Homo sapiens: one gene and its partners. The protein of the gene in region 2 purifies or fractionates together with the protein of the main gene of each other region. This does not show direct contact. Each region holds a gene or a part of one and is shown on either strand. Other genes may lie near its edges.

What was found.
Region 1: the proteins of GPR156 (region 2) and ZBTB1 purify together in Homo sapiens (co-immunoprecipitation; 3 studies listed by BioGRID and IntAct, with this or other methods). This does not show direct contact.
Region 3: the proteins of GPR156 (region 2) and PLD2 purify together in Homo sapiens (co-immunoprecipitation; 3 studies listed by BioGRID and IntAct, with this or other methods). This does not show direct contact.

What each region holds. Positions count from the first base shown.
Region 1 is NC_000014.9:64,502,372-64,506,119, forward strand, and holds the start of ZBTB1 (zinc finger and BTB domain-containing protein 1), read left to right. Parts: upstream 1-2,398; 5' UTR 2,399-2,575; exon of another isoform or gene 2,576-3,489; intron 3,490-3,748. Other genes in the region: ZBTB25 (zinc finger and BTB domain-containing protein 25), read right to left, coding at 530-639.
Region 2 is NC_000003.12:120,194,586-120,198,333, forward strand, and holds part of GPR156 (probable G-protein coupled receptor 156), read right to left. Parts: intron 1-3,748. UniProt on the Homo sapiens protein: Orphan G-protein coupled receptor involved in the regulation of hair cell orientation in mechanosensory organs of the inner ear.
Region 3 is NC_000017.11:4,805,189-4,808,936, reverse strand, and holds the start of PLD2 (phospholipase D2), read right to left. Parts: upstream 1,786-3,748; 5' UTR 1,712-1,785; intron 1,166-1,711; 5' UTR 1,165-1,165; coding exon 1,056-1,164; intron 954-1,055; coding exon 823-953; intron 664-822; coding exon 521-663; intron 1-520.

The DNA of each region.
Region 1 (3,748 bases), on a different chromosome or scaffold from region 2:
ATTAAGGAGTTGATGTCCGATAACGGATTCACGATTTACCCTTAACTAAAATATATCCAGATTGTTAAAGAAGACTTTGATGCCTTAACATAAGGAAGCAACCAATGCTGCAAATAATAGAGAACAGCAATGAAACTTTCAGGGGTGGCTGGGGGGTGTAGGCTTTTAGTTCCAAAAATACACCATAGGCGGCCTACCTCACCTAGAAATACCATCAAACCCACACAGTGGCCATGCCTGACTTCTCCATAACCTGAATCAAGCCAAGTATATATAATGACCTCCGCCGGATACATTCTCTACAGGTGAGTGGGGTAAACTGGCACTGCGGTCCTGGCATGGTGGAGAGTGCAATCACCAAGGTGTCTGGAGCCTTGGAGTCTTAGCTATCAAGAGGTGTAGCTAGCTCCAGCTACATCACGCTCTTCAGGCCTGGTGTCTTCTCTGTAAAACGAGAGGGATGAAACAGATTTTCTATAAGGCACCTCTCGGCTCTAAAATTTAAGATTCCAAAGTGTACTTTACATACATGACAGAATCTTGTGAGAGGATCAACAGCTCTGCCAGGACTTGAGTCTCAAGAGAAAGAATGCCAAATTTAATCCCTTGGGGTGATGCGGGCGCTAACTGTTGAAACATGCTAGGTGCCGTCAGGTTCCAGGTACTACGTTGTGCTATGCGCTGCCTCCGCAACTGGTAACAACTGATTACTCCAAATACTGAGTGCCAGAGAAGACGGTGATAAGATGGGTCAAGCTTCAAAAAGAAAAACCGGATATGCTTAGAACAAGATAAACATAATTTGAAGATAGAAAAGGGGGGGATGTCTTCTTGCCCTAGAAACGAGGTAATCACAAGCTGGGAGTGGAAACAGTAGCCGCAGCGTCCTCCCAGCATCTGGAAAGTCGCCCGCTCGTAAGAGGGGTCGGCGCTACCCGAGGGAGGCCGCAGGCCTACTGGGGTTTCCTGCTGGGGGTCGCACCCGGACCCGCGGCCGGGACGGCTCTGCACCTTCGCGGCACCCCGTGTGCCACCCTGAATCAGGCCCCGGCAGCCGCTCCTACGAGCAGCAAAGGGTGGTTCTGGGTATTGTCGGCCCAGCGCTCACTCGCGGATGTATTTTCCTCCTGTGCCCTGCCTGACATCTCAATCGGACCAAAAACACCCCTCTCCCCAGCTACTTGCATCTGTCCCGCGACTGGTGCAGCTGCAGGCCGCCGCCCTGGGTGGCTCGCGGCAGGAGGGACTGAGCCCGGGGCAGCCCACAGGGGCAGGACCGCGTCGCTTACCCAGATGCCGCCGCGGCGGCAGGCCGACTCCTCCGTGCAGGAGGGGCGGGCTCCCAAGCCGCGCACTGCAAGCAGTGGCGCCGGCTCACGCACCCCTCGGCCGCCTCTCGCGCGGCTTCCCGCGCCGGCAGCCCGCGATGGCCCCACGTGACCGCGTGTCTGGTAGCAGGGGAAAGAGGGGCGCCAGGGCCGGGGTGTGCGTGCGTGCGTGCGTGCGTACGTGCGCGCCCTCCCGCCCGCCCGCCTCAGTGGCCGGGCGGGGGTCGGCCCGCGCTCTGAGTGCCGCCGCCACAGTTCGCAGTTGTGACTCTGTAGGCGGAAGCATAGGGACAAGCCTGAGCGTCACAGGCTCCCCACAAACAACCGCGTGACCCGGGGACTTTCCCCAGGGTGTGCAAAAGCACAGGCACCCCCTCAGTTCTGGGGTGAAGGTGGGGGTGGGGAAGGATGCGCCCGCGTGTTCGCTGGGGAAGGGATGAGGGCGCGGGGCCAGGGAGGCCGAGCCGCGGGAGCCTGGGTGGAGAGGCGGACTGGGCGAGGTGGGGCATGGCGGGGGAAGTGACTCAGGGCCAGAGGCAGCAGGCCCACGGAAGGTGGGGTCGGGGGGGCGCGGGGACTGGGCGACCCTGAACCGACGGGGCAGGGCGAGGTTGCCGGAGCACTCGAGGCGGACCGCGAGTGACGGCCCAGCTGCTGGGCCCAACGGGCAGGGGTCTGACATCTGGACGGAGTGGGAAAGCAGCCTCGCATCCTGCCCTGGGGAGTCGGGAGGAGCCCAGTTCCATCCAGCTGTGCAAACAGGAGGAGGAGGAGGTCCCAAGCCTACCCTTGAGAGGGGCAAGAGGGGTGGTCAAGCCGCCGCCGCCGCGACGGCCCCCGCGGTGCGGGTTGCGCCAGCCTCCTCGGAGCTCGACGCAGAAACTTGTTGCAACAAACAGGCGACCGCGGGTGCCCCTAGCAGCCAGCGGCAGAGTGGGTGGGCGGGCGAGAGGGAGGGGAAGGCTGGCGGACGCCGCAGCGAACTGGTGGGCAGACCCGGAGTCGCCGCGTAAGCGGGGCCGGCTCAGTGCGGTGCGGCAGGCGCGGCTGTGCGGCAGCGGAAGTCCTTTGTTGCAGCACAGTCCCTGGCAGAGCCAGAGCCTCTCCGCGCAGCCCAGCCCGAGCGCCGAGCGCCGCGCGCCGCCGCCACTGCAGCTCGCGGCCCCTTCGCCTTCGCCCGCCTTTCCCGCGGCTGATTTGCCTTAAACTCCCTAAAATCTCCGCAGCTCTGGTTCCTGTTGCGGCCGGTAAGTATTTGCCAGTTGTGGGGCTATTTGCGCAACTTTGGCCCAGGCCGGAGGGCGACGGGCCGCGGGCCTGGCGGAGTGCGGGGCCGGAGGGGCGCCGATCCGTGCGGGGAGCCGGAGCGCGGCGGACGCGCTGCGAGGACCCGGTGACGGGCGGCTGCCAGGCCGCCTGCTTGTTGCCGGCGCGTCAGGTCCCGGGCGTGCGGCCTCCCTGAGTCGGAGGCGAAGCCCCTACGGAGACTAGTTCCCAAATTAGTTACCTTCTTTTCTTTCTTTCTCTGCCTTTATTTTTTTCGAGGGGGGAGGGGAGGTGTAGACGGGAGGCGGGAGAACCCGGTTGATTGACGTGCCTAGAGCCCGCTTCTCTCAACTTACAGCTGCGGCTCGGCGGCGGGTGGGAGGGGAAGTGTCCCGGAGCCCGAGGCTGCAGACTTGGGCGCGCTCCGAGGGAGGAGGCGTAAGATCCGTGCAAATTCTTGTTACGCTGTTTCCCACCCCCTCTCGCCGGCACACACGCTTTTTGTTCAGTAAAAAGTGGAAGGTCTGAGTTTGGGAATTTTAAGTGGAAAAGATCTGTTTCTTGGGAAGGGAGTGCTTTCGCTTGCAGCGGTGGGCGCTTACTAGAAGTTCGGTAAATGTGTTGGATGCAGATCGGGAGTCGTTACTACTAAAGTATGTAGGCAGGGTCTGAGCTCAGCCACCCCACCCAGTCTCCCTTTCTACCTAAGCAACGCGTGTACATGATCTGAAGGGTTGACATGACATTTTCTAAATTGGGCGAATCAGGAAGAGGTTGATGAAAATCCTTGACGTTTTCTGGGGATAGGACATTTGTGTGTGATAACGTTCTTAAGTCGAATTTCAGTGTGGCAGTGCACGCAGATTCTTCATTGGTGTTAGTGTATTTCCATACGGTATGTATCAGTACAAGAAATAGTGTTCCCTTTGACACTCGAACCCAAGGAGTGGTCCGAGGCTTTTTGAGGCAACGTAGGATCAATGTCTCTGAAGCAGATTTGGTGAAGGATGCAGGTCTCATAATTTACAGAGCAATCACAGCCTTCTTTGAAACGGAGAAATTAGATTCTATGAAATTTTGTCAGTGCAGATAGATATGATGTGGAGAAACGGGGAAAATTGAGTACAAAAAGATGAGGCTTGAATGATGGCTGG
Region 2 (3,748 bases):
TTTCTAAAATGAGAATAATAATTATGCGATCTACCTTCAAAGAGTTGTAAGGATTTAATAAGGCAATATGGCAAAATGCTTGGCACATGGCCTGGCACATAGTAGGCATGTTGCCAACATCAGCTGCTTATATTATAATCTCACTGTCCACCTCTTCCAGGTTTTAGAAACCTAGGAATCACCTTTTCCTTCTTCTGTTTCTTTATCAGAAACACCCAATCAATTGCCAAGTTTCTTTCATTTCTTCTTCTTTTTTTAATTTTTTTGAGACAGAGTCTTGCTCTGTCACCCAGGCTGAAGTGCAATGGCATGATCTTGGCTCACCACAACCTCTGCCTCCCTGGTTCAAGTGATTCTCCTGCCTCAGCCTCCCGAGTAGCTGGGATTACAGGTGCCCGCCACCATGCCCAGCTAATTTTTGTGTTTTTAGTAGAGACAGGTTTCACCATGTTGGCCAGGCTGGTCTCGCACTCCTGACCTCAAATGATCTGCCTGCCTCGGTCTCCCAAGGTGCTGGGATTACAGGTGTGAGCCACTGTGCCCGGCCTCTTTCACTTCTTATTTCAAAGTCTCTGAGTTTTCTCTCACTCTCCATCCTTTTTTTTTTTTGAGACAGAGTCTCTCTCTGTTGCTCAGGTTGGAGTGTAGTGGTATGATCTTGGCTCACTGCAACCTCTGCCTCCTAGGTTCAAGCAATTCTTCTGCTTCAGCCCCGAGCAGCTGGGATTACAGGTGCCCACCACCACGCCAGGCTGATTTTTGTATTTTTAGTAGAGAGAGGCTTTTGCCATGATGGCCAGGCTGGTCTCAAACTCCTGACCTCAAGTGATCTGCCTGCCTCAGCCTCCCAAATTTCACTCTCCATTTTTTTTTTTTTTTTGAGACAGTGTCTTGTTCTATTGTGCAGGATGGAGTGCAGTGGGGCAATCTCGGCTCACTGCAACCTCCACCTCCTAGGTTCAAGTGATTCTCATGCCTCAGTCTCCCCAGTAGCTGGGTTTACAGGCACGCACCACCACACCCATCTAATTTTTGCATTTTTAGTAGAGATGGGGTTTCACCATGTTGGCCAGGCTGGTCTCGAACTCCTGACCTCAGGTGATCCGCCCACCTCGGCCTCCCACAGTGTTGGGATAACCGGTGTGAGCCACCGCGCTTGGCCTCTCCATTCTTGATACCATGTTTATCCAGGATACAATCATGTTAGGAGCAATGGAACTGGGGTTGAGGGTAACAGGTGGGAACACCAGCTCTGCCACTCACAGCTGACTAAGCCTGTCTGACCAGGAAACAGGCTCCTATTTCCTCATCTGGAAAATGAAAATAACATCATCTTTTGTATCTACCCCACAGGTTATTGCAAAGATGAGATGATGTATGTGCCAAAACTGTTTGCAAACTTTAAGATGATGCAAAAATATTACTTTTTAGATTTTTGATGTAACCTTCAGCTCTCAGTAAACACCAATTTTTTCCTGTTCTAGTACATTCTGTACATTACATTCAGATTTATTAATCTTCACATGCCACATTTATATTTAGCAAAAGAGCTACATGTATAAACAACAAGCTTCTGTGGTTTACCTTAAGTCTCCTGTATCCAAATTTAAGATCTAGCCCTATCATATGATCCACTTATTCATTCAGGTCTGCCTCCTCAGCCTCCATGTCTTCAGATTGTGGACTTATGGAGAGTGATTTTCCTTAATTTCTTTATCTCTCCACAAAAGAAGGGGAATATGTGGTGAATATTAACTACAGAAGTAAGAACAGTGCTAACCAGCAGCTTCACAAAGCATTTTTTGAAGAAAGGTACTACATTAGAGAGACCAGTGCTGACACTGATTCAGAGCAGAGAGTACTGCTGACCTGGCACCGGCTGCACAGGGCAGTCAGAAGTTTGAGCAATGGCACAAGCAGTGGGACTCCTGCAAGACCCATAACCCAGGCCATTCCTCCCCATGGCCATTCTCACATTCCTGCACATAAGCCATGACTATCTGATGGTGACCTCGTCACCAAGCAACTGCCTGGATTTCACAGCCACATGTCTGTTTGGTCCAGATCACTGATCGGTACGTTTCTCTCATAATTTTTCTTTGGACCCACTTTATTTGAGTACCACTATACAATCAGTTTTCCTTTGAGTGATACAGTACTACATGAAATCCTGATTGAGGATTCCTTCTCTTTCTGATTTAGTTAAGAGGAACTCAATTTAGTTATTTTCCAGAAAATATACATTGAATAGTTTTCACCTCTCAGACAGTGGTGCTAATTCATTATTCAAATAGACATACTATGGACTTATATATGTATATTGTGATATTTTTCCCGAGCAATCTTACTGAAAACTTGCCTCAGGGAACAAAAGATGAATACAAGATGATTTCCCTTTTTTGTTTGGCCAAGTTAACACCTGTGAAGTCACTGAAAGGTGAATCATCTCCAATTCAGCAGGTGAATTATGTATGTCTGGGGAATGTCTTTGCCACGTTGGTAGGAATTCAGTCACCAATGTCATTTATATTTTTCTATTGAGCTAAAAGATGAAGCCTACATAGCTGAATATTTTAATCAGCCACAAACACATAATTTCCACAAAGCAAATAGATTTCAATATTGTATATTTAATTATAGATAGCCAGTACTATCTAGGTTACTTGTCTTCCATTTATGAAGAGTAAAAAGCCTGAATTGGGTTACTGTCAGTCAGAAACAAGGTGAATTTTTTTTTTAAAGGATTATATAGCTTTCTCATTATCTCTTCCTCTTCATTTATTGAGTGGAAATGTAAGACAAGAACTTGCTTGATTTTTCTATCCTCAAGTGAGGTTTCAATACATATAGATAAATATTGAACTACATCTGCAAAACCTGTATAATTCTGCATTATCATTTCAATAGTCTCTAATGAATTCAGATGCTTAAGCCACATCCACCAGCTCAATGGTATGATGTTGCAAAAACTTTATCAAATGTTAATTTCTCAACTTGGCAGTTTATTTTATTTGAAGTTACTGAGTCTGAAAACATGGCCAGAGAATGGAGCACAAGGTACTTGTTGGCATGCTGTGACTAACAGAAAACTTATCCTAAGATGTCACAAGACCATGCTCTCTAAAATGCTATAAAAATTGATGTAAATGGTATCACTGAGCTTTAACCTATCCAAAACCAAATATGAATGTCTTTCCAAAATGCTTTTTAATAAAACAATTAAAATTTAAATTGTGAAAATTTATCTGATTTCTTTATCAACTTACTGTTTTTGATCCATGCTACAATGGGATTGTAAATCTAACTCAAATAAAACTCCAAATACCTTTATCATAATGTTATCTGATGTGTTTCAGCAAATTTGATCTTTTAATATCTTGCTTATTTCTAATGTATACACTAATCTGCACCCAATTAAAATTCTGCACACCTCAAGCTAATATTAGTGTGACCTCTAACTATTTGTATTTAAAGTATCCATCATAAGGCCTGACCCCGTTCCCTACTCTCGTGCCTGGGCCACCATCCTCGTAGAACATCCTAGGAGATTTCATTAGCTTTTCAGCCTCCAGAGTTCTAAATTATTCAATCATAATGATTTCACTTTATTCCTCTTCAGACACCCATCCCCAGGTTACACTCTGGGTCTTAGGGTCACTCAGAATGGTTCCCCTTCAGGAATTGTAAACACCAATATCCCAACACCAATTTGACTACAATCTGTTCAAAATTTAACTCCAAGTCTCCC
Region 3 (3,748 bases), on a different chromosome or scaffold from region 2:
GGATCACTTGAGCTCAGGAATTTAAGACCAGCCTGGGCAACACAGCAGCACCCCATCTCTACAAAATATACAAAAATTAGTTGGGTGTGGTGGCTGTGGTCCTAGCTACTCTGGAGGCTGAGACGGGAGGACTGCTTGAGCCCAGGAGGTTGCCATGAGCCAAGATCATACCACTGCACTCTAGCCTGGGTGACAGAGGGAGACCTTGTACAAAACAAAAACAAAAAACAAACAAAAGGCCTAGAGGCTGGCAAAACGGAGGCCCCCTACCCTGGGAATGGAGACTAGAAAAGGGTGAGGCTGCCAAGAGCATTTTGGGCATCCCGCCCAGCTGAGATGCTGGCACAGAACCATGGACAGGGAAAGCTGAGCAGGGAAAGTTTCCTGGTAACTGGGGTCAGGGGAGGCAGCACAGTGGCCAGAGTTGCAGGGAGGAAAGGTTGTGGCCCCGGGGTGAGACAGACAGAAAGGAGGGTGGGGAGCACCTGCCCTCTACAGGAAGCAGTCCGGTCGCCCTCACCGAGCCAGAGGGAGCAGACTCATCAAGACTTTGTGTCTCAGGAGGTCCCGATGCAGCTCCTGAAAATGACGGTATTTCTTCTTGGTTGTCCAGGAAAAGTCGCCGTGAGTCAAGCGGACAGAATACAGAGTGCAGGTTCCCACCTAGGGGTATGAGGAACTGAATGGATGTCCCCTGCGTGGGTCCCCGCCTCCCCACTCTGGCCAGCCCTCCTTTTGCCCCTTCCCTGGGGCCAGCCCAGCCACCTTGGATCCATTCCGGGCCGCCCTCCCTTTCCCCCTCCCTGGGGCCAGTCTGGCCACCTTGGATCCGCTGGTATATCTTTCGGTGCCCACCACCTGGGCTGTGACAGGGACCCCAGGTGCGAACACCAAGGGGTGCACTTTCAGAGACTGAAGCTCATAGATGGCCAGAAACGGGTGCATCCGGTCGGCTGGGAGGAAAGAAAGTCGAGGAGTGTAGACCACAACAGGCCCCAGCCCCCTGGCTCCCGAACGCCTCTCCTCCCTGAGGGCCATCCATCTTCCCTGTGTACCTGGGTCCTCTCCCTCCTTCAGGGTGTCCACCTCATCGGACTCCATCTGGAGCTGGCTGGAGTCCAGTTCGTCCCCAGTGGGGAAGAGGCTCTCAGGGGTCGCCGTCATCCTAGGAACATTGGGAAGCCTCAGGGAGGCGAGCTGTCCTGCAGAACCCGCCCCCCATCCTAACTCCCGCAGGTCCTCCATCTCTTCCAGATCCTCCTCTTCCCCCACGGCCTCCTGACCGCCCGCGGATGACGCCTGACCAGTTTGCAACGCCCCACCGACCCCTTCGAGCCCCCATCCCCTACCTTAGTCCTTCATCCACAATCCCAGTCCCGCCCCCCGCCCCCCGCCCCGTCCCGTAACCAGAGCCCCGGGGAACACCCAGCCAGGCCCGGAAGGCTCCGACCTGGGGCGGCGCAGCAGCTGCGCGGGGAAGCGGCCCTGGGTGGTCCGGAGAGCGCGCGGCTACGGGGCTCACGCCAGGCCAGGCGGGCCGGGGGCAGGGGTCCAGGCGGGAATGAGGAAGTTACGCGATCCCAGCCGGGGGTAGAAATCCCGAAATCTGAGCGTGCGACTGAGTCTGGAGGCCCCGCAGCCCGAGCCCGTTCCGTCCCCGCCCGATTTCCGAGACCCGGGACCCCCGCGCGCCCCTTCCCGGCCCCCTCACCCTGGCAGACGGAGCCAGCGCCCGCGGGGGTTCCGGAGCCAAGAGAGCAGACCGGAGCTGCAGCCGGAGCCCACGCCCCGGCCGAGGCGGGGCCGGCCGAGGCGGGGCCGGGGCTCAGGGCCTGCCCTCGGGGGCGGGGCGGCCCCCGGCCTCACCTCCGCGGGATTCTCGTCTGTCCTGTCCCGCCCCCGCTGCCCTCGGCCCGCCCCGCCGCCCAGTGCGCCACCGAGAGCCCCGGGCAGGGGGCCGCCCTGTGCCCTGCAGGGCCGCGGGGCCGCGTAGCTCTCTCGGTGCGGCGGGTAAGTGCTGCCCGGCGTCGGGGCGTCCCGCGCCGTCGGTCCCAGCGTGCCCGGCCGCTGCCTCCCGGGGCACCCCGCGCTGCGCGCATCCCTCGGGCTCGGCGCCCGCCCCGGGCCCCTCCAGCCGCGGGCGCTGCCTCGGCGCCCGGGGGACGCGCCTCCGCTGCGGGAGCTGCCGGTAGGTGCCCCGCTCCCGGACCCGCTGCGAGCCACATTTGGCCTAGCCCAGATAGCGTTTGTACCTGGAAGGAATGAGGGCGTAAAAGGCCTGAGGGGTGGTGGCTACAAACCCATTAGTGTATGAAAGCGGGCATTCTTTCATTCATTCACCAAACATTTATTGCGCGCTTACTCCGTGCCAGAAATTGAGAGTATGGTAGTAAATAAGATGGTTAGAGAGCCTGCTCAGCTGGAATTGGCAGTCTAGGGGGAAATAAAATTTTTTCGGGTATTAAAATACAAGATATTTCAATCTTTTTTAAAAAGCAGATTTATTTTTCTCTTTTGATATACATGTGGGTTTCTAGTTTTGCCCATTGTTTTAGCTCCTGTAAACATTCCTGTAAGTTTGCGTGGATAGTTTTCCTTTATCTTGGGTAACTAGGGAGTGGAGTTGTTCGATCATATCAGTGTGTGTTTAACTTATAAGAAACTGCCAAACGATTTTTTTCTAAATGGTTTTTCCATTCTAGATTTCCAAAATCAGTGTATGGTGGTTCCAGTTATTCCATGGCATGGCCAACGTTGGATATTGTCAGTCTTTAGCGTTGGCCATTTAATGGGTGTTGTGGGCACATCATTGCAATTTGATTTGCATTTGTCTGGAGATCAATGATATTGACCATGTTTCATGTGCTGATTGGCCATTTGTATGTCTTCTTTTATAAAGTGCCTATTCAGTCTTTTGCTATTTTTTATTTATTTTTATTTTTATTTTTATGAGACGGAGTCTCGCTCTTTTTTTTTCTTTTTTTGAGATGGAGTCTTGCTGTGTTGCCCAGGCTGGAGTGCAGTGGCGCGATCTCGGCTCACTGCAAGCTCCGCCTCCCAGGTTCACGCCATTCTCCTGCCTCAGCCTCCTGAGTAGCTGGGACTACAGGCGTCCGCCACCACGCCCAGCTAATTTTTTTTGTATTTTTAGTAGAAACGGGGTCTCACCGTGTTATCCAGGATGGTCTCGATCTCTTGACCTTGTGATCCGCCCTCCTCGGCCTTCCAAAGTACTGGGATTACAGGCGTGAGCCACCGCGCCCGGCCAGAGTCTCGCTCTTGTTGCCCATGCTGGACTGCAGTGGCGTGATCTCGGCTCACTGCAACCTCCCCCTTCCAGGTTCAAGGGATTTCCGGCTAATTTTTGTATTTTTAGTAGAGACGGGGTTTCACCATGTTGGCCGGGCTGGTCTCAAACTCCAGACCTCAAGTGATCCGCCCTCCTCAGCCTCCCAAAGTGCTGGGATTACAGGCGTGAGCCACCGTTCCCGGCCTTTTGCTAATTTTTTTTTTTGAGACAGAGTTTCGCTGTTATTGCCCAGGCTGGAGTGCAATGGCGCGATCTCGGCTCACTGCAACCTCCGCCTCCCGGGTTCTCTCCTGCCTCAGCCTCCTGAGTAGCTGGGATTACAGGCACCTGCCACCACGCCTAGCTAATTTTTTGTATTTTTAGTAGAGACGGGGTTCCTCCATGTTGGTCAGGCTGGCGTCGAACTCCTGACCTCAAATGATCCGCCCTCCTTGGCCT